2 linked regions of the Homo sapiens genome follow. The protein of the gene in region 1 interacts with the protein of each later gene in a pairwise test. Each region holds a gene or a part of one and is shown on either strand. Other genes may lie near its edges.

What was found.
Region 2: the proteins of HID1 (region 1) and CBS interact in a two-hybrid assay, tested with the Homo sapiens proteins (one large-scale study listed by BioGRID).

What each region holds. Positions count from the first base shown.
Region 1 is NC_000017.11:74,955,456-74,959,266, reverse strand, and holds part of HID1 (protein HID1), read left to right. Parts: intron 1-215; coding exon 216-356; intron 357-503; coding exon 504-594; intron 595-788; coding exon 789-940; intron 941-1,047; coding exon 1,048-1,126; intron 1,127-3,310; coding exon 3,311-3,475; intron 3,476-3,811. UniProt on the Homo sapiens protein: May play an important role in the development of cancers in a broad range of tissues.
Region 2 is NC_000021.9:43,055,564-43,058,946, forward strand, and holds part of CBS (cystathionine beta-synthase), read right to left. Parts: coding exon 3,271-3,383; intron 2,845-3,270; exon of another isoform or gene 2,728-2,844; intron 2,691-2,727; coding exon 2,582-2,690; intron 1,325-2,581; coding exon 1,240-1,324; intron 537-1,239; coding exon of another isoform or gene 495-536; intron 1-494. UniProt on the Homo sapiens protein: Hydro-lyase catalyzing the first step of the transsulfuration pathway, where the hydroxyl group of L-serine is displaced by L-homocysteine in a beta-replacement reaction to form L-cystathionine, the precursor of L-cysteine.

The sequences.
Region 1 (3,811 bases):
GTGGAGGGGCCAGGGCTGTCCACAGCTATGAGGGACTCCGCTTCCTGAGGCATCGCCCCAGGACAGCTATGGGTGATAGCATCTGGGCCCTCTGGCTCTGGAGGTGGGATCTGGCTCTGGGGGATGGAGGGGGGGATTTGTTGGGGGCCTGGGCTGGGAAACTGGAGCTGCAGGGATTGGGCTGGACAGGCCCCCTGCTCTGCCCTCGCCCCCAGGACTTCCAGTTCATCCTCAAGGGTATAGCCCGGCTGCTGTCCAACCCCCTGCTCCAGACCTACCTGCCTAACTCCACCAAGAAGATCCAGTTCCACCAGGAGCTGCTAGTTCTCTTCTGGAAGCTCTGCGACTTCAACAAGGTGGGCCAGCCTCGAGGGGCCCTGCAGGGAGATGGAGAGCAGCTGCCCCAATAACCCGGGGGCAGGGACAGTGTCAGACTGAGGGGGGTGGGGCAGAGCTGCCCCTCCCTTGAACTCAGCCCACTTGGCCCCTCCCCGCACCCCTAGAAATTCCTCTTCTTCGTGCTGAAGAGCAGCGACGTCCTAGACATCCTTGTCCCCATCCTCTTCTTCCTCAACGATGCCCGGGCCGATCAGTGTAAGACCAGGGTGGGGGTGGGATGCTGGGGGCTTTCCTGGCGGCGAGGTGGAGGGCTGGCTATCTGCCCTGACTCCCAGGAGCTCAGGCCTGGCACTCTGACCTCCTAGGAGGGAGGCCTCCAAAATGGTCACTGCCTGGGCCCCTCCTTCCCCCTCCCACCCGAGTGACCCCTCCCACGCCACCTGCCGCAGCTCGGGTGGGCCTGATGCACATTGGTGTCTTCATCTTGCTGCTTCTGAGCGGGGAGCGGAACTTCGGGGTGCGGCTGAACAAACCCTACTCAATCCGCGTGCCCATGGACATCCCAGTCTTCACAGGGACCCACGCCGACCTGCTCATTGTGGTGAGGGGGCTCGTGCGGCCGGGCCCAGGAGGTGCAGGGGTGGTGTCCTCTTGGCTGAGTCTGGAGGCAGCGGGGACCCCACGGTGCCTCTGTCCCTCCTGGCACAGGTGTTCCACAAGATCATCACCAGCGGGCACCAGCGGTTGCAGCCCCTCTTCGACTGCCTGCTCACCATCGTGGTCAACGGTAGGGGCCCGGAGCTTGCACTCCCCGCGCTCACCACCAGGTGGTGTCAGGCCACAGGCCAACCTGCCACTTGCTCCAGGTTTCAAGCCCCTCCAGCCCACAGAAAGAACGCAAGCTTGTGTACCCTTCATAGTAGCCACATTAAAAAAAAAGGGTGACAACAATTGAATAATATGTTTTATCTATCATCATCTCAACATGTAGCCAATATGAAAATTACTAATGAGATATTTAATATTCCCTTCTCACACTCAGTCTTGTCGCCCAGGCTGGAGTGCAGTGGCACCATCTCAGCTCACTGCAACCTCCGCCCCTTGGGTTCAAGCAATTCTCATGCCTCAGCCTCCTGAGTAGGTGGGATTACAGGCGTGTGCCACCACACCTGGCTAATTTTTGTATCTTTAGTAGAGACGGGGTTTTGCCATGTTGTCCAGGCTGGTCTCGAACTCCTGACCTCAGATGATATGCCCACCTCAGCCTCCCAAAGTGCTGGGATTACAGGCATGAGCCACTGCATCTGGCCTTTTTTTAAAAAAAAAAAATTTAACAATTTTTTTTGACATCTGAAGGAGGTTAGCCCAGTTTATGGGAGCCACTGGTAGTCCGATAACATTTTTACTTTATTTATTTATTTATTTTATTTTATTTTATTTTTTATTTTTAAGACAGAGTCTCACTCTCTGTTGCTCAGGCTAGAGTGCAGTGGCACAATCTCCATTCACTGCAACCTCCCAGGTTAAGTGATCCTCATGCCTCAGCCTCCCAAGTAGCTGGGATCACAGCATGTGCCACCACAACTGGCTAATTTTTTTTTTTTTTTTGTATTTTTAGTAGAGACAGAGTTTTGCCATGTTGGCCAGGCTGGTCTTGAAGTCCTGGCCTCAAGCAATCTGCCTGCCTTGGCCTCCCAAAGCGCTGGGGTTACAGGTGTGAACCACCACACCCGGCCATATTTCATTTTATTTCTAATTATAGTGACGGGATCTCACTATGTTTCCCAGGCTTGTCCTGAACTCCTGAGCTCAAATGATCCTCCTGCCTCAGCCTCCCAAAGTGCTGGGATTATACAGGCGTGAGCCACTGTGTCTGGCCTCTTGTGTGTTTCATATGTGCAGCACACGTGTTAGGACTAGCTGTGTTTCAAGCACGAAATGGCCACACGTGGCTGATGTCCACTGTGTTGGGCAGTGCAGGTTTGGACATTTGGAGTCACAGTGTATGGGGATGTGGAGGCCCCACCCTTTCTGCCTTTGTCCTCCCTGTCCAGCCCCTACCCCCACCCAGCAAGGACTGCACACAGCTGCTGGGGAGAGGAAGCAGAAGGAGCCAGGCTCCCTGGGGTTCAGGACCTAGCAAGGCAGGTGGCCATGGGCTGGGGCAAAATGCCTTCAGTGTGAACATCTTTTGGAGAGGATGGTTGTGGCTAGGGGTGGCTGGTCTGTCTGTGTTCTGGTTTAGACTGCAGGGTGGGTAGTGTGCGGTGGTAGAGGCCTCTAGCTGGGCTGTGAGCTTTGGGGTCAGGACTGTCCCTTCCCCTCCTGGTTCACTCTCTGGCTCCATCTCACAAATCTTAACTGAGCTGGTTCCGAGAACACACTTGTGACCAAGACAGCCCTGGTCCCTGCCCTGTGGAGCCCTCAGCCTAGTGAGGGAAAATGACACAAGACAAGGAAGTGTTCAGATCAGCATGGAACTTCAGTCTGGGTGTGCCCCCAGGGTTGGGTCCCAAAATACACCTCTAGTGACATGGCAGCTTGACGTTCTAGAAAGATTTAAAGTCTTGAGTTTGTATCCCTGCCCGATCATTTCATTACTGGGGAACTTGGGCCAAGTTTACAACCTTCTCTGAGCCTCAGTTTCCATGTCTGTAAAATGGGGATGATCTTGTCTGTGTCCTGCCTCCCTCGTGGTATGGGGGGGACTGGCATGGGTGGGATGTGTATGGCTTTATAAGCAGGACAGCTGTCTTCATGGTCGAGGGGTGAGGGTGGGGCCTAACTGCCTCCCAGGACTCTGCACACAGTATGGCCAGTGTGGACTCAGCCTCTTAGGGCCTTGGTCGTCCTGGCTCTGCAGGGGGCAGGGAGGGATTGAGAGCAGGAGCCTGTTGTTCCACCCCGGCCCAGGATGTGCAGGGATGGCTTGGCTGAGGGGCCCAGGAGTGAGCTGACCCCTCCCTTACAGTGTCCCCCTACCTCAAGAGCCTGTCCATGGTGACTGCCAACAAGTTGCTGCACCTGCTGGAGGCCTTCTCCACCACCTGGTTCCTCTTCTCTGCCGCCCAGAACCACCACCTGGTCTTCTTCCTCCTGGAGGTCTTCAACAACATCATCCAGTACCAGTTTGATGGTGAGGCACCAGCCTGAGGCCCTGGTGGTCAGGGTGGCCAGCGGGCCTACTTCCTACATAAGGGGGGCACAGCCCAGGAGGTGGCCTCTGGGAGGTGCTGGCCTGCTTGCCTTCTGCCCCCAGTTCATTCATTCAGTGTACATTTATTGAGCATCTACAGTGTACCTGGGTGCAGGGGATGCAGTGGGGAACAAAGCTTTGCTTCTTGCCCTGTGGAGCTCATAGCTGGGGATGGAGGCAGGGAAGGAGGCTTCAAACAGATGATGGACATCTGAAATTTTTTTTTTTTTCCCGACGGCGTCTCACTCTGTCGCCCAGGCTGGAGTGCAGTGGCGC
Region 2 (3,383 bases), on another chromosome or scaffold:
AAAAGATAGGGAACACAGATGAGATCAGCTCCTTGCATTTTGGGGAAACGGAGGCACAGCAACTGTTGGAGAAGGGAGCCCTGGGAGCCCTGAGTGCCGCAGGCTTCTGTGGCCCTGGCAGCTCGGCCCAGAGTCAATGGACTAGGGCCAGCCAGGGGACTTTCCGACAAGGGCCAGCTGGTGGTATTTTAGGTCTTGGGGGCCGTGCCGTCTCTGTTATGAGCACGCAGCCCTGACGTGCTTGAAAGCAGCCACAGACGGTGGTGACAAGCGTGGACATGCTCCAGGAAGACTTGATTTGGGGACCCTGACATTGGAATTTGCATCTTTTTTTTTTTCTGAGATGTTCAAACACAAGTAAATGTGAGATTAAGAGGGGGATCCCTCCTACCCAAGCTTGGGGGTGGGTCCAGGACCCTGGAAGGCCTCCATTTGCCATGGGGAGGCTGTGAATCTGAGCCTGAGAGCCATTCTGAGGGGTGGGTGATACCTACCTGCAGGCCCCCCCACCACGCCTGCCCAGGCCTGGTCCTGCGCTGCAGAGCCAAGGACGGGAGATGGGGTTAGACTTGGGGCCCTCACGGACCAGCCTCAGCCACCGAGCGCTCACCCCCTGCACACAGGCCTGGTGGGTGGGCAGGCTCCAGGCTCCAGGGCCCCTCCCAACTCTTCCTGTGGGCCCCAGGCCCAGGGCTGCCATCTATGACCCAAAACCTGCGAGCGACTCTCCTGGCCTGTGGGGATGTGGTGGGGACGCCCGGGGATGCGCTCAGGAGTTGCAAAACCTCATGAGCTTGCTGGGAGCGGGGCTCTGAGGACAGCCCATCAGTGGCTCCTGTGAGACCCACATGAGGCTTCCATTCAGAGCAGCCCTCCGAATGCCAGGGTCAGGACTTGAAACCCTTCTAGATGTTTCTGGGCTTGTCCCTGAGAATCCCCAAGACTGCTGGCCTCCCCGGAGGCAAGGGGCCTGGACTCCTGAGCCTCTGCATGCTGGACAAAGGGCCCTACCCAGTGTGGCCTGATGAGGGGTCCCTGCAGGAATCACAGGTACAGCCCACCAGCCCAGGGCATGTGGGAGGCCCAGGCATAAAGACTGGGTGTCACTGAAGGTCGGCACCACCCACTCCCCTAACACCCCGCAGGGGATGGGGGGCCCAGCTGCTGCCCATGGCAGAGGCCAGGCTTGGTGGCCTGACCCCAGTGAGAACCCCACGCACAGAGCAGGGCCCCACTCACACTGGATCTGCTCGTGCACCACCAGGGCGAAGTGGTCCATCTCCAGGATGTGCGAGAGCCTGCCCAGCGTGTCCGTGAGGCGGATCTGCAAGGGAAGCGTGGTCAGTGGCAGGGGGAACATGGCCCCACGAGTTTTCTGTGGAGTGAGAGGGGATGCGATGGTGGGTCCTGCAAAGCCCACCCGGGAGGCAGTGGCAGCCGAACGTGGGAAATACGTGGATTCGGGTGACGTCTCGGGTGTGTGTGTGAGATGGGAAAGAAGTCGAATTCACTCCTAGGTTTGGGCAGAACCCTCAGCCTTTCCAGTGTCAAGAGCCACACCTGCATGTCCCAGGGGATCCGTGTGGAAGGTCACACAAACTTTCCTGGGCCACCCTCAGGGCAGCAGAGGGTGGGTGTCTCAGGACAACCACGGAGTCTGACCAGCCCGGCAAGGAGCCACCGTGGGCTTCTCCCAGAATGTTCTAGCTCTTGTTGGATAACCAAGTGCATGCACAGGCAAATGAGGCTGGGCAGGAGAAAGACCCCGGCAGACGCCGCATGGTGCCCGGGACAGCCTCTGAGCGCGAATGACCTCCTTAAGTCCCCAAAACACGGCTGGTGTGGATGAGCCTGCACTGATGAGAGCCTGCTCTCCGGCTGCTGCACTTGTAAAGTGGGTGCTTCTCAGCTTCATGGTTTGAGGGGTGCAGCCAGCTTCGGCCTAAGTGGTGTTGAGGGTCGAGGACCCAGCACCCCCACACGGGAAGCGCGGTGTCCCGCCTTCGAGGCTGGAGTACTCTGGCACCCTCTGGGGTCCCGAAGTGCCTGAGTACCTGTTTGAGCCGCGTGTAGGTGACTGCGCACCTGTTTGAACTGCGTGTAGGTGACCGCGCACCTGTTTGAGCTGCCTGTAGCTGACCGGGCACCTGTTTGAGCTGCCTGTAGGTGACCGCGCACCTGTTTGAGCTGCCTGTAGGTGACTGGGCACCCGTTTGAGCTGCCTGTAGGTGACCGCGCACCCGTTTGAGCTGCCTGTAGGTGACCGGGCACCCGTTTGAGCTGCCTGTAGGTGACCGGGCACCCGTTTGAGCTGCCTGTAGGTGACTGGGCACCCGTTTGAGCTGCCTGTAGGTGACCGCGCACCCGCTTGAGCTGCCTGTAGCTGACCGCGCACCTGTTTGAGCTGCCTGTAGGTGACCGGGTACCTGTTTGAGCTGCCTGTAGGTGACCGCTCACCTGTTTGAGCTGCCTGTAGGTGACCGCGCACCTGTTTGAGCTGCGTGTAGGTGACCGGGCACCTGTTTGAGCTGCCTGTAGGTGACTGCGCATCTGTTTGAGCTGCCTGTAGGTGACTGGGTACCTGTTTGAACTGCTTGTAGATGACTTTGCCAACTTGGTCTGACGGCTGCACCTTCCCGGCAAGCAGGGACGAGAGCATGTTCCCAAGCGTCACCATTCCCAGGATTACCCTGTGGGACGGGGGCAGGCAGGGGTCAGCGCTCATACCTCACCCCTCCCAGGACGGTGGGGCACACGCTCAGCTGCCCCAGGGAGGAGCGCTCTCTGGCCACACATGGAAGTCCTCTGCCACGAGCCTACACGCGGCAGGAACCAGTCTGGGCCCTGGTGGGGAGAAAGAAACCAAGAGTCCTTGGACCCGTTCAGCCAGGGTCAAGGGTGACCAGCCGTCAGGTTTCCGCGACGTGGGGCTCTCAGTGGTCACTGGGCATGTGTGCCAAGGCTTTCTGCTGTCAGACATGTCCTCGGGGCATCTCTCCCCTGACCTCCAGGTGGGCCCAGGACAGCCTGCACACAAAGGGTGGGTGGGCTGAGGTCTGAGGGCCTGGAGTGAGCACGGCAGCCCTGCCCCAGGCTGCTCAGGGACCGGCAAGGGGCCTCCAATGCCCTGAACGTCTGTATGAGGCGGCCCAGGCGGGCCTATCAGCCCAGCTGCAGGGTCTGCATGGCTGCCCTGTCCAGTGACACTGACGGGGTGGAGCTGGGCAGACAGAACCCAGGACTGAGCTCTGAGCAGGGGCTGAGACTGACCCCGCCTCATCCACCACGGGCGCCTGGTCGAAGCCCTTCTCCCGGAGGATCTCGATGGTGTGCCCACAGGTGATGGTCGGGAGCACGGTCAGCGGGGCTGACAGGCCCAGCTC